Homo sapiens: one gene and its partners. The protein of the gene in region 3 purifies or fractionates together with the protein of the main gene of each other region. This does not show direct contact. Each region holds a gene or a part of one and is shown on either strand. Other genes may lie near its edges.

Evidence for each region.
Region 1: the proteins of POM121C (region 3) and SEPTIN14 purify together in Homo sapiens (affinity purification with mass spectrometry, with the first as the bait; one large-scale study listed by BioGRID). This does not show direct contact.
Region 2: the proteins of POM121C (region 3) and MARF1 purify together in Homo sapiens (affinity purification with mass spectrometry, with the first as the bait; one large-scale study listed by BioGRID). This does not show direct contact.

The regions. Positions count from the first base shown.
Region 1 is NC_000007.14:55,838,699-55,842,350, forward strand, and holds part of SEPTIN14 (septin-14), read right to left. Parts: intron 1-3,652. UniProt on the Homo sapiens protein: Filament-forming cytoskeletal GTPase. Involved in the migration of cortical neurons and the formation of neuron leading processes during embryonic development.
Region 2 is NC_000016.10:15,622,590-15,626,241, forward strand, and holds part of MARF1 (meiosis regulator and mRNA stability factor 1), read right to left. Parts: intron 3,212-3,652; coding exon 2,783-3,211; intron 2,585-2,782; coding exon 2,427-2,584; intron 2,339-2,426; coding exon 2,180-2,338; intron 538-2,179; coding exon of another isoform or gene 535-537; coding exon 345-534; intron 1-344.
Region 3 is NC_000007.14:75,437,770-75,441,421, forward strand, and holds part of POM121C (nuclear envelope pore membrane protein POM 121C), read right to left. Parts: intron 3,347-3,652; coding exon 3,185-3,346; intron 1,456-3,184; coding exon 1,375-1,455; intron 1-1,374. UniProt on the Homo sapiens protein: Essential component of the nuclear pore complex (NPC). The repeat-containing domain may be involved in anchoring components of the pore complex to the pore membrane. When overexpressed in cells induces the formation of cytoplasmic annulate lamellae (AL).

The DNA of each region.
Region 1 (3,652 bases), about 20 Mb from region 3:
CACCATGCCTGGCTAATTTTTCTATTTTTTTGTAGAGATGGGGTCTCACTACATTGCCCAGGCTGGTCTTGAGCTCCTGAGCTCAAGCGATGCTCCTGCGTTAGCCTCCCAAAGTGCTGAGATTACAGGCTTGAGCCACAGAGCCCAGCCCAGTTTCACTTTCCACAATTTCCCGTAATCAACAGCAGTCCAAATATATTAAATGAAAAATTCTAGAAATACACAATGTAGAAGTTTTAAATTGCATGCAATTCTAAATACTGTGATGAAATGTCATGTTGACCCACTCCTTCTCACCCTGGATATGAATTATCTCACTATTCACCTCATTTTATCTCAACATGTAGGCATTGTATTATCTCACATCATCATAAGAAGAGTGAGTACAGTATAATAAGATATTTTGAGGCCAGGCGTGGTGGCTCACACTTGTAATCCCAGCACTTTGGGAGGCTGAGGCAGGCGGATCACCTGAGGTTAGGAGTTTGAGAACAGCCTGGCCAACATGGGGAAACCCCATCTCTACTAAAAGTACAAAAAATTAGCCGGGCGTGGTAGCGGGCACCTGTGATCCCAGCTACTCGGGAGGCTGAGGCAGGAGAATCACTTGAACCCGAGAGGCAGAGGTTGCAGTGAGCCGAGATTGTGCCACTGCACTCCAGCCTGGACAACAAGAGCAAAACTCCGTCTCAGAAAAAAAAAAAAAAAAAAGATATTTTGAGAGACGCAGGTAACTTTCACATAACTTTTAGTACAGTGTATTGTTATAATTGTTCTATTTTATTATTAGTTACTATTGTTAGCTTCGGTCTGCATCTAAGAAACTAACAATAATAACTAATAATAAAAGAGAACTGCATCTCATTTATAAATAAATCTTTATGATAGGTATGTATGCATAGAAAAAAACAGTATATATCAGGCTCTGTACCATGCATGCTTTCAGGCGTCCACTGGGGATCTTGTAACTTACTCCCAAGGGTGCTACTCTATAGGCAAATGGCCATGATCTGGGAGGTAAGTCAAGGTTGAAATCTATCAAATGTGAGTTGTCTCCCCCAGCAACCAAAAAATTTGTATGTTGAAGCCTCAACCCCCCAGTACCTCAGAATGTGACCTCAACTGAGATAAAGCCTTCAAAGAGGTGATTAAAAAGTGAGACTGGGTCAGGTGCGATGGCTCACGCCTGTAATCCCAGCACTTTGGGAGGCCGAGGTGGGCAGATCACCTGAGATTAGGAGTTCGAGACCAGCCTGGCCAACATGGTGAAACCTTGTCTCTACTAAAAATACAAAAATTAGCTGGGTGTAGTGGTGCATGCCTGTAATCCCAGCTACCCAGGAGGCTGAGGCAGGAGAATCCCTTGAACCTGGGAGACGGAGGTTGCAGTGAGCCAAGATCACACCACGGCACTCCAGCCTGGGCATTAAAAAAAAAAAAAAAGTGAGACTGTTACAGTGGGGCCCAACCTAAACTGACTGGCACCCTTATAAGAAGATAAAATGTGAGGCCGGGCACAGTGACTCACGCCTGTAATCCCAACACTTTGGGAGGCCGAGGTGGGTGGATCACCTGAGGTCAAGAGTTCAAGACCAGCCTGGCCAACATGGTGAAACTCATCTCTACTAAAAATACAAAAAATTAGCCGGGTGTGGTGGTGGGCGCCTGTAATCCCAGCTACTCAGGAGGCTAAGATAGGAGAACTGCTTGAACCCAGGAGGCAGAGGCTACAGTGAGCTGAGATTGCACCACTGTACTCCAGCCTGGGCAACAAAAGCGAAACTCCGTCTCGAAAAAAAAAGACAAAATGTGGACACCCCGGAGACACTAGGAAAAACACCATGTGAGAACACAGAGATAAGGTGGTCATCTGCCAGACAAGGACAGAGATTTCAGAAGAAAGCACATCTTCTGACACCTTGATCTTGGACTTCTGTCCTCCAAGACTGTAGGAAAATACATTTTCATTGTTTAAACCACCCAGTCTATGGCATTTTGATATCCCAGCCCTAACACACTGATGCAAATGCCTCAAATATTAACAGAAAAAGATAATTAGGATATATACATATATTACAAAATGACAGGTACAGTCGTGCACCACATAATGGCATTTCAGTAAATGATGGGCCACACATATGATGTTGTTCCCATAATATTATAATACTGTACCTTTGCTTTTTGTTGTTGTTATTATTTATTTATTATTTATTTATTTATTTACTGACTCTTGCTCTGTCGCCCAGGCTGGAGTGCAGTGGCGCAATCTCGGCTCACTGCAACCTCCGCCTCCCTGGTTCAAGCGATTCTCCTGCCTCAGTCTCATGAGCAGCTGGGATTACAGGCGCCTGCTACAACGCCCAGCTAATTTGCTAATTTTCTGTATTTTTAGTAGAGACAGGGTTTCATGATATTGGCCAGGCTGGTCTTGAACTCCTGATCTCAGGTGATCTGCCCACCTCAGCCTCCCAAAGTGACGGGATTACAGGCGTGAGCCTCCGCACCTGGCTATTTAGAGATCTATTTATTGAATTTCTGGATTCAGGGGATATATGTGCAGGTTTGTTACTTACATATATTGAATATTAGTGAGGTTTTGGTCTCTCGTGTGCCCATCACCCAAATAGTGAGCATTGTACCCAATAGGTAATTTTTCAAATCTCAACCTCCTCCCACCCTTCCCCTTTATAAAGGGCCCAGCGTCTATTATTTGTCTAATACTGAAACTTTTTTTATGTTTAGATACACAGACAAGGCTGGGCGCAGTGGTTCACGCTTTGGGAGGCTGAGGCGGGCAGATCACTCGAGGTCAGGAGTTCAAGACCAGCCTGGCCAACATGGCAAGACTCCGTCTCTATTAAAAATACAAAAATTAGGCCGAGCACAGTGGCTCACGCCTGTAATCTCAGCATTTTGAGAGGCTGAGGTGGGTGGATCACCCGAGGTCGGGAGTTCGAGACCAGCTTGACCAACATGGAGAAACCCCATCTCCACTAAAAATACAAAATTAGCCAGGCATGGTGGCACATGCCTGTAATCTCATCTACTCAGAAGGCTGAGGCAGGAGAATCGCTTGAACCCAGGAGGTGGAGGTTGCAGTGAGCCCAGATCACGCCATTGCACTCTGGCCTGGGCAACAAGAATGAAACTCCGCCAAAAAAAAAAAAAAAAAAAAAAATTAGCCGGGCATGGTGGCACAGGCCTGTCAGGCCTATAGTCCCAGCTACTTGGGAGGCTGAGGCCAGAGAATCACTTGAACCCAGGAGGCAGAGGTTGCAGTGAGCCAAGATTGTGCCACTGCACTCCAGCCTGGGAGACAGTAAGACTCCATCTCAAAATAAAATAAAATAAAATAGATACACAGATACTTACCATTGTGTTATAATTCTACAGTATTCCGTACAGTACCATGCTGTCCAGGTTTGTAGCCTAGGAGCAATAGGCCATACCATAAAAGGCTATAGCCTAGATGTGTAGTAGGCTATATCATGTAGGTATGTGTAGATACACTCTAAGATGTTTGCATAATGATGAAATCACCTAAAGATATGTAACTACACTTGCATGCAAGTGCCTTCAAGATGTCTTATTATCTCAAAATTAATATTACATCATGAAAGGTTGAGACCAGGAACAATGGCTCATGCCTGTA
Region 2 (3,652 bases), on a different chromosome or scaffold from region 3:
CCAGGCTGGTCTCAAACTCCTGACCTCAGGTGATCTGGCCGCCTTGGCCTCCCAAAGTGCTGGAATTACAGGCATGAGCCGCCATGCCTGGCCACAAATTGCCATTTCAATTTCTGCCTAAGACAAGAGCTTTTCACTGCTAGGCGTCTTGCTCTCTGGGGCTAACATTGTAAAAACTGGATTTATAGCACCACCCTGAGCAGACCAAAGGGAAAAGGAAGGAGTTCAAACTTGTTCAGTCACACTTCTATCCCGGCTGTGGTTATGTATATCAAATTAGGTCCTCTTGACTAGAGACTCCATCAGAGAGTATAACAAAGCAAGCACAAGAGGGAAAAAGTTACCTTGCCATGCCTGGCAAATGCTTCCTGCAGGAGCTGCTGCAGCTCCTTCCGGGATAATCTGTAGTCTATGTTGCTGACTTGGACATCAGCACCATTTGCAAATGGGTCTGGGCAGTCGGCTTCGCTGCTCGAATTTGCAATGTTGAAAGCAAGCGGGGATGCTCTGTTTAAAAGGTTTGGAGACATACTCCTGCTTAAAACACACATATTGACATTATTTTAAAAAACTGTTCTGTATATTTAGATTTTATCATTTAGGCTTTGTTTGAAACTATATACAGAAGCAGATTTTCCACAACACAACCAAACCAAACATTTGGTTTTCAAATGTGTTTTTAATCTTTTTTTTTTTTTTTTTTTTTTTGAGACAGAGTCTCGCTCTGTCACCCAGGCTGGAGTGCAATGGCACGATCTCGGCTTACTGCAACCTCCACCTCCTGGATTCAAGCAATTCTCCTGTCTCAGCCTCCCCAGTAGCTGGGACTACAGGCATGCACCACTACACCCAGCTAATTTTTTTTATTTTTGGTAGAGATGGGGTTTTACCATGTTGGCCAGGCTGGTCTTAAACTCCTGACCTCAAGTGATCCACCTGCCTCAGCCTCCCAAAGGGCTGGGATTACAGGCGTGAGCCACTGTGCCCAGCTGTGTTTTTAATCTTAAATACACATTGATTTCAGACATTGTCAAAAGTACTATCTACTGACCCCTAATTACCGCCAACCAATTAATATATATTCTTCCTTTGGGTTAAAGCTAAAGGCAGGAATTAGAGGCAGTCCTGATGAATTAACCTTCTGCTTTGTGCATTATCCTTAGGAAATCAGCCTGTGATACCAATTTAAGGCGTCTAACCTCCTCTGTGTCTCTGAAAGAGTTAAACGTTCTTGCCTACATGTTACAGTTCTTTCTGCACATAAGGAAAACTTTTATGTGGCTTTTTAGATGTAATTTTATAGATCCATAGTCACTTTCTCTTTTTTTTTTTTTTTTTTTGAGACGGAGTCTCGCTCTGTCACCCAGGCTGGAGTGCAGTCATGCGATCTGAGCTCACTGCAACCTCCACCTCCCAGGTTCATGCCATTCTCCTGCCTCAGCCTCCCAAGTAACTGGGACTGCAGGCACTCACTACCACGCCCGGCTAATTTTTTGTATTTTTAGTAGAGATGGGGTTTCACCGTGTTAGCCGGTTAGCCAGGATGGTCTTGATCTCCTAACCTCATGATCCTCCCGCCTCGGCCTCCCAAAGTGCTGGGATTACAGGCGTGAGCCACCACGCCCGGCTGATCCATAGTCACTTTCTACAGTGATCTGCCACCAACTCAGCAGAACAAACACAATGCTAAAAGGAGCTCATGGGAATGCAACACGGCCTTACGGCTTCTCTGTCTCCCAAGCATCAAGAATTCCTTGGTGTGAGAGACAGTGATAAATAATTACCATGGTTTACAGAAAACTTTACTTCCAAATAGCTTCCTATACAGAACCATATGAATCAGAACCACCAATGCACGGCTCGTTTGGGCTTTTTCCTCAACACAGCGAACATAGGGACATCTTTACATGCCCCCCTGCACTGGCCAGGGACTCTCCAACAGGCTTCTCTTTCTGACCTCTGCTTACCACAATTTCCAGATGGAGGAAGAAGAAATGGTGAAAGCATTGCCCCTAAATGTTAACGATGATTACCTGAGGAGAGGGGGACTGGCAGAAGAGTGATGGGAGACTTACTTTGTGCATTTCAGTACTATCTGAATTCTTTTCAACAAACATACTATTTCATAATCCTTCCTATTACATGTAACCACCCCCATGGGTCAAGAAGCTGGACTCACCTAGAAGACCAAGACTGAGATGCGAGCAGAGGACTGACTTGCCTGGATGCAACTAACTTGCTAAAAGCAGACGGGTAACTCACTTGGAATACAGTCTCCTCTTTATCTTTTTTCTCTACAGGAGAACTGGTAACACTTCGGGCACTGAGGTTCTCCTTTCTAACAGAAGGGGAAAATTGAAGGCAAAAGGTCATATGTCTTCCTTCACATTCAAGAAGCAGCTATGAGAAAGAGTAGTTTCACATACTTCTGACTGGTTTTGTAAACGGGTTCTGCCACCCCCGAGTTTTTCGGCGTCGACACTGCAGCACTTGAGTTACCGTGAGTGGGTACGACCAGCCTCAGGTGACCTTGCTGGTGCTCACTGTTTCTATGACCAGTTTTTGACTCCATGCGGCACAGCTCCTTCAAAGACACAAGCACAGTGGGGTTTAAATTTTAAGTACCCAAGATGTGTTAGATCCTTTACAGAAAACGATTGACTTTGAGTATCATCAAACACTGAAATCAAAAAGGGACACGCCAAAAGCAAGCGGGCACGTAAAACACAGAAACAAACCAAACCTACCATAAACTTCAGAAAGCAAGAGGTATCAAAATTACCTGTAAACTTTTAACATTTGTATTTTTTGTAGCAGATCCAGAATTTGCCTGTGACCCTTTTCCAGGCGTGGCTTTGGCACTGGAAGATTGTTCACTTGCATCTTTGATGAGGCACAATTTTGGATTCTTAAGTTTTTTGGGAGACTTCACTTTATCAGCAATTGCATTTGAACTCTTTGTTTCACAGAGTTCTCTATTTTTTGGAGTAAATGACACAATGATCCTATTACCAAAGACATCTTCGTTTTCCATTCGCTTCTGAGCGCGCTCTGCACTATCTTGGTTTATGAAGCGGAGAATTGCACTGCAGCCTGTGATACTCAGCACTTTCCCACCACAATTATCGGACAGGCGTCTGAGCCTGTTGCTGACGCTCTTGCCATCCTTATTTGCTGGTAGGTTATAAACATAGAGCAGAGTGTGGCACTGCTAATACAGAGGAAAGAAGTGTTACGTCAGGTTAATTCAAGGGCACACATTCAATTTCAAAATAAGAACAATGGGTGACCTCCAAACTTCAGTTAACAACTTTGAAGAGAAGATGACAGTGATTTAGATGGGAGAGGGTAAATTATTTAGTGTTGACAAAGTAACTGAATATTGTTTTAAAGAATATGCTTTAGCTGGGCATGGTGGTGCATGCCTACAGTCCCAGCTACTCAGGTGGGAGGATTACCTGAGCCCAGGAAGATTGAGGCTGGAGTGACTGTGCCACTGCACTCCACTCTGAGTGACAGAGTGAGACACTGTCTCAAAAAATAAAAATAAAAAAGAATATGCTAGGCACAGAGGTCTGTATACTATATGATTCCATTTCTATAAAGCATCCAGAAAATACAAATCTACAGAGACAGAAAGATTAGTAGTGCC
Region 3 (3,652 bases):
ATAACATGAAGGGAAGAGAATAATGCTTTTAATTTTTACTGCTAACAATCTGGCCAAATCTATCTGACAAAGTCAGTAAGAAAAGCCAAATATTTAAAACTTAAATGTATGATTTATAGAATATTCTGGAAAATGCATACCTATCTACAGTGACAGAAGACAGATCAGTGGATGCCTGGGGACACGGGTGGAACTAAAGAGAGGGATTACAGGCATGTGGGAACTTTTGGAGGTCATGGATGTTCATTATCTTAGTGGTGGGATGGTTCCACAGGTGTATGCGTGTCAAAATGTCACATGCTTTAAACAAGTACAGTTATGTCAATTATACCTCAACAAAGCTGTTAAAAAAAAATCAGAGTTAAGAGGAACCCATCATTTTTCTAAACCTCCAATGGAAACAGAAATCTCCTATGCATCTTTCCTGTAGGACAGTCATCCAACCTGTTACAATATAGACAACGCTCTCCTAGAGTGACCCACGTCAACCATGAACCAGTTTATTCTCACAGTGGATTACAATGTATTTCCTCTAACTTTCACCCACGGATCCTATTTGAAGTCAAACAGAGCAAGTTATTTCGCTTCTTTCAAGGGACAGTCCTTTGGTTTTTTGGAGACCATTGTCCTTCCCTCACTTATTTCTTTATTCCTCCTGAGATTTTTCTCCTCTGGGTTAATACTTCCATACCTCCAAAACCCCATCATCCACCACCACCCCTCTGGGCTGTTGCAAATCTCCTTAACATCTTCGTTGCTTCACTGGGAATGAATTTCCGTTTGTGTACATCCTCCCTCGCAGTGCAGTACGCTGATCTGACCACAGTGCTCCACGGACAGTGAGCAGAACTACGGAAGGCAGGAATACCTGCCTCATTCTAGTCTTTCTTCTAACAGCACAGACCAGGAGCACTTTAGCTTTCCTGGTGGCCACATCACACTGCTGACTCAGATGAGGTATCTAAGTTATCCTAAGTCTTTCCACACAGACTTTTGAGCCACTTTCCTTTCCACCCAATTCTTCCTCCAATTTGTTTTTAAACTGACATGTAGAAATTAAACATTTAAGTTTCATACTGTCTTATCCGCTGCACAAACTTTGCAATCCTTCTGTGTATGTGCTTGGTTATTAAATATATTTATAAAACCTCTAGTCTCAGCATATTTCATCCATATTAATGCAAGAACATTAAAAGGAATTAGACAGAAGGCAGTTAATTGTGACAAGTTACTCAGAATATTCCTAATTTCAAAGACATGAACCTGAACTAATTAAGCAATGCAAAAAACAAAGAGGAAAATCTATAGGGCAACAGCTCTGATCAGGCCTTTTTCCAAACAGTTGGTATTTCATCTGGATGGACTCGCACTTACTTAGGCACAAAAGAAGCGGGGACTCCACTGGCCACCAGGGGCTCAAATGCTGAATGTCCACTGCCACTGCTATCATGGCGCCTGCGACAAATCAAAAAAGTCTCAAATGAAATGACATGACTTTGTTTGTCCCTTTAAAGTGTATTCTCACATTTCTGGGACCTTATACTATCTCTATGGAGCACAGATTCCATGCTAGACCAGAAAATGGTTGTTTAAAATCCCTAAGTTTCTGAAAGGTAAATTTTTTTTTTTCAGACAGAGTTTCACTCTTGTTGCCCAGGCTGGAGTGCAATAGCACAATCTTGGCTCACTGCAACAAACCTCTGCCTCCCGGGTTCAACCAATTCTCCTGCCTCAGCCTCCAGCGCAGCTGGGACTACAAGTATGCACCACCACACCTGGCTAATTTCTTAATTTTTTGTACAGGCGAGGGCTCCCTATGTTGCCCAGGCTGGTCTTGAGCTCCTGGGTTCCAGCGATCCTCCCACCTTGGCCTGTCAAAGTGTTAGGAGTACAGGCATGCACCACCATACCCAGCCTTATAAAATGGTGTTTCCCTCAAGAGTCCCATGAGAGCAGAGATTTTGTCTTGTCCACTGCTCTATCCACAGTACTTGCAGTAGGGTCTCATACACAGTGGGTGCTCAGTAAATGCTCACCCACTTCAACTTCTTTTCTTTCTGTAATTAGAAAACTATTCCATTTTCATTAGGTTATTTTACAAACCACATAAGGAATTTTTTTTTTTTTTTTTGAGACAGTCTCGCTCTGTCACCCAGGCTAGAGTGCACTGGCATGGTCTCGGCTCGCTGCAACCTCCGCCTCCTGGGTTCAAGCAGTTCTCCTGTCTCAGCCTCTGGAGTAGCTGGGACTACAGGCACCCACCACCACATCCAGCTAATTTTTGTATTTTTAGTAGAGACGGGGTTTCACCATGTTGGCCAGGCTGGTCTCGAACTCCTGACCTCAGGTGATCCACCCGCCTCGGCCTCTCAAGGTGCTGGGATTATAGGCGTGAGCCACCTTGCCCTGCCAGGAAATTGGTTTTAATCTCATTATTGATAAAACTACCAAACTCTAGTTTTCATTTTTCTTTCCCAAGCATTTCCTTCAGCACAATTAAGACACTAGAACTGGTGGGCCGGGCGCCATGGCTCAAGCCTGTAATCCCAGCACTTTGGGAGGCCAAGGTGGGCGGATCACGAGGTCAGGAGTTTGAGACCATCCTGGCCAATATGGTGAGACCCTGTCTCTACTAAAAATACAAAAAAATTAGCTGGGCATGGTGGCGGGCGCCTGTAGTCCCAGCTACTCGGGGGGCTGAGGCAGGAGAATGGCATGAACCTGGGAGGCTGAGCTTGCAGTGAGCTGAGATCGGGCCACTGCACTCCAGCCTGGGGGACAGAGACAGACTCCAACTCAAAAAAAAAAAAAAAAAGACACTAGAACTGGTGGTTACCCAAATAACTGAACACCACAAAATTCCGACCGGAAGACTTAGAGCCTTCTTTCTTGAAAATAAACTTTTAACACGTTTCTACAGAAGCATGAGGCTAACATGGCTAATAGCTGTCAGCTTATCTCTGCTACTCACAGAAAAGGTAAATTATGACATCGATCTAACCTGTGCCTTGAAATGAACAGCATTAAAACCCTTGTTATTAGGTTCTCTCATGAAAGCCAAAGAAGGAGGCCTATGAAGGCTCACAAACTGGACGTGGCCTCTGTATCTTTACGGGAATGTCTACATCTCATCCCATAGGGGTCCAAGCGGGAAACTGGCTTAGTACTCTCCTGAGCCTGTTACCTTCTTTTATTTTCCTGGCCATCAAGGAATATTTGGTCTTCTTCCTCCACTGTCCTTTTCTTCTTCTTCTCTTTGAGGGCACTCAGTACAGTCTCCTTTGCACATGGGTCTGGGGCATTACTTGATGGTGACGACAGTGTTGAGCTGATTATCTGCTCTGGTCTATAATGAAAGACAAGATTCTAGCCGTAAGATATTTTAATTCCCATGCCACATCAGAAACGGAAATCAGAAGCTAACCAACAGGCCAAAGTATAATTTATACACTCACAACAGTTCCCCTTAGCAAGTAAAGCTACTTTTTCGTTAACGGCAAAAAGTGAAAAACAAACGGTTTTACTAGAATTTGGTATTTCTCATTCAAACAAGCAGATTCGTCCTTTCTTTTTTGCGTTGTAGTCATGTTGTCACAGGAACAACTGGAGAAGAATAAAGTGGACACGAAAAGGGAGAGTATTCTTCCAACGA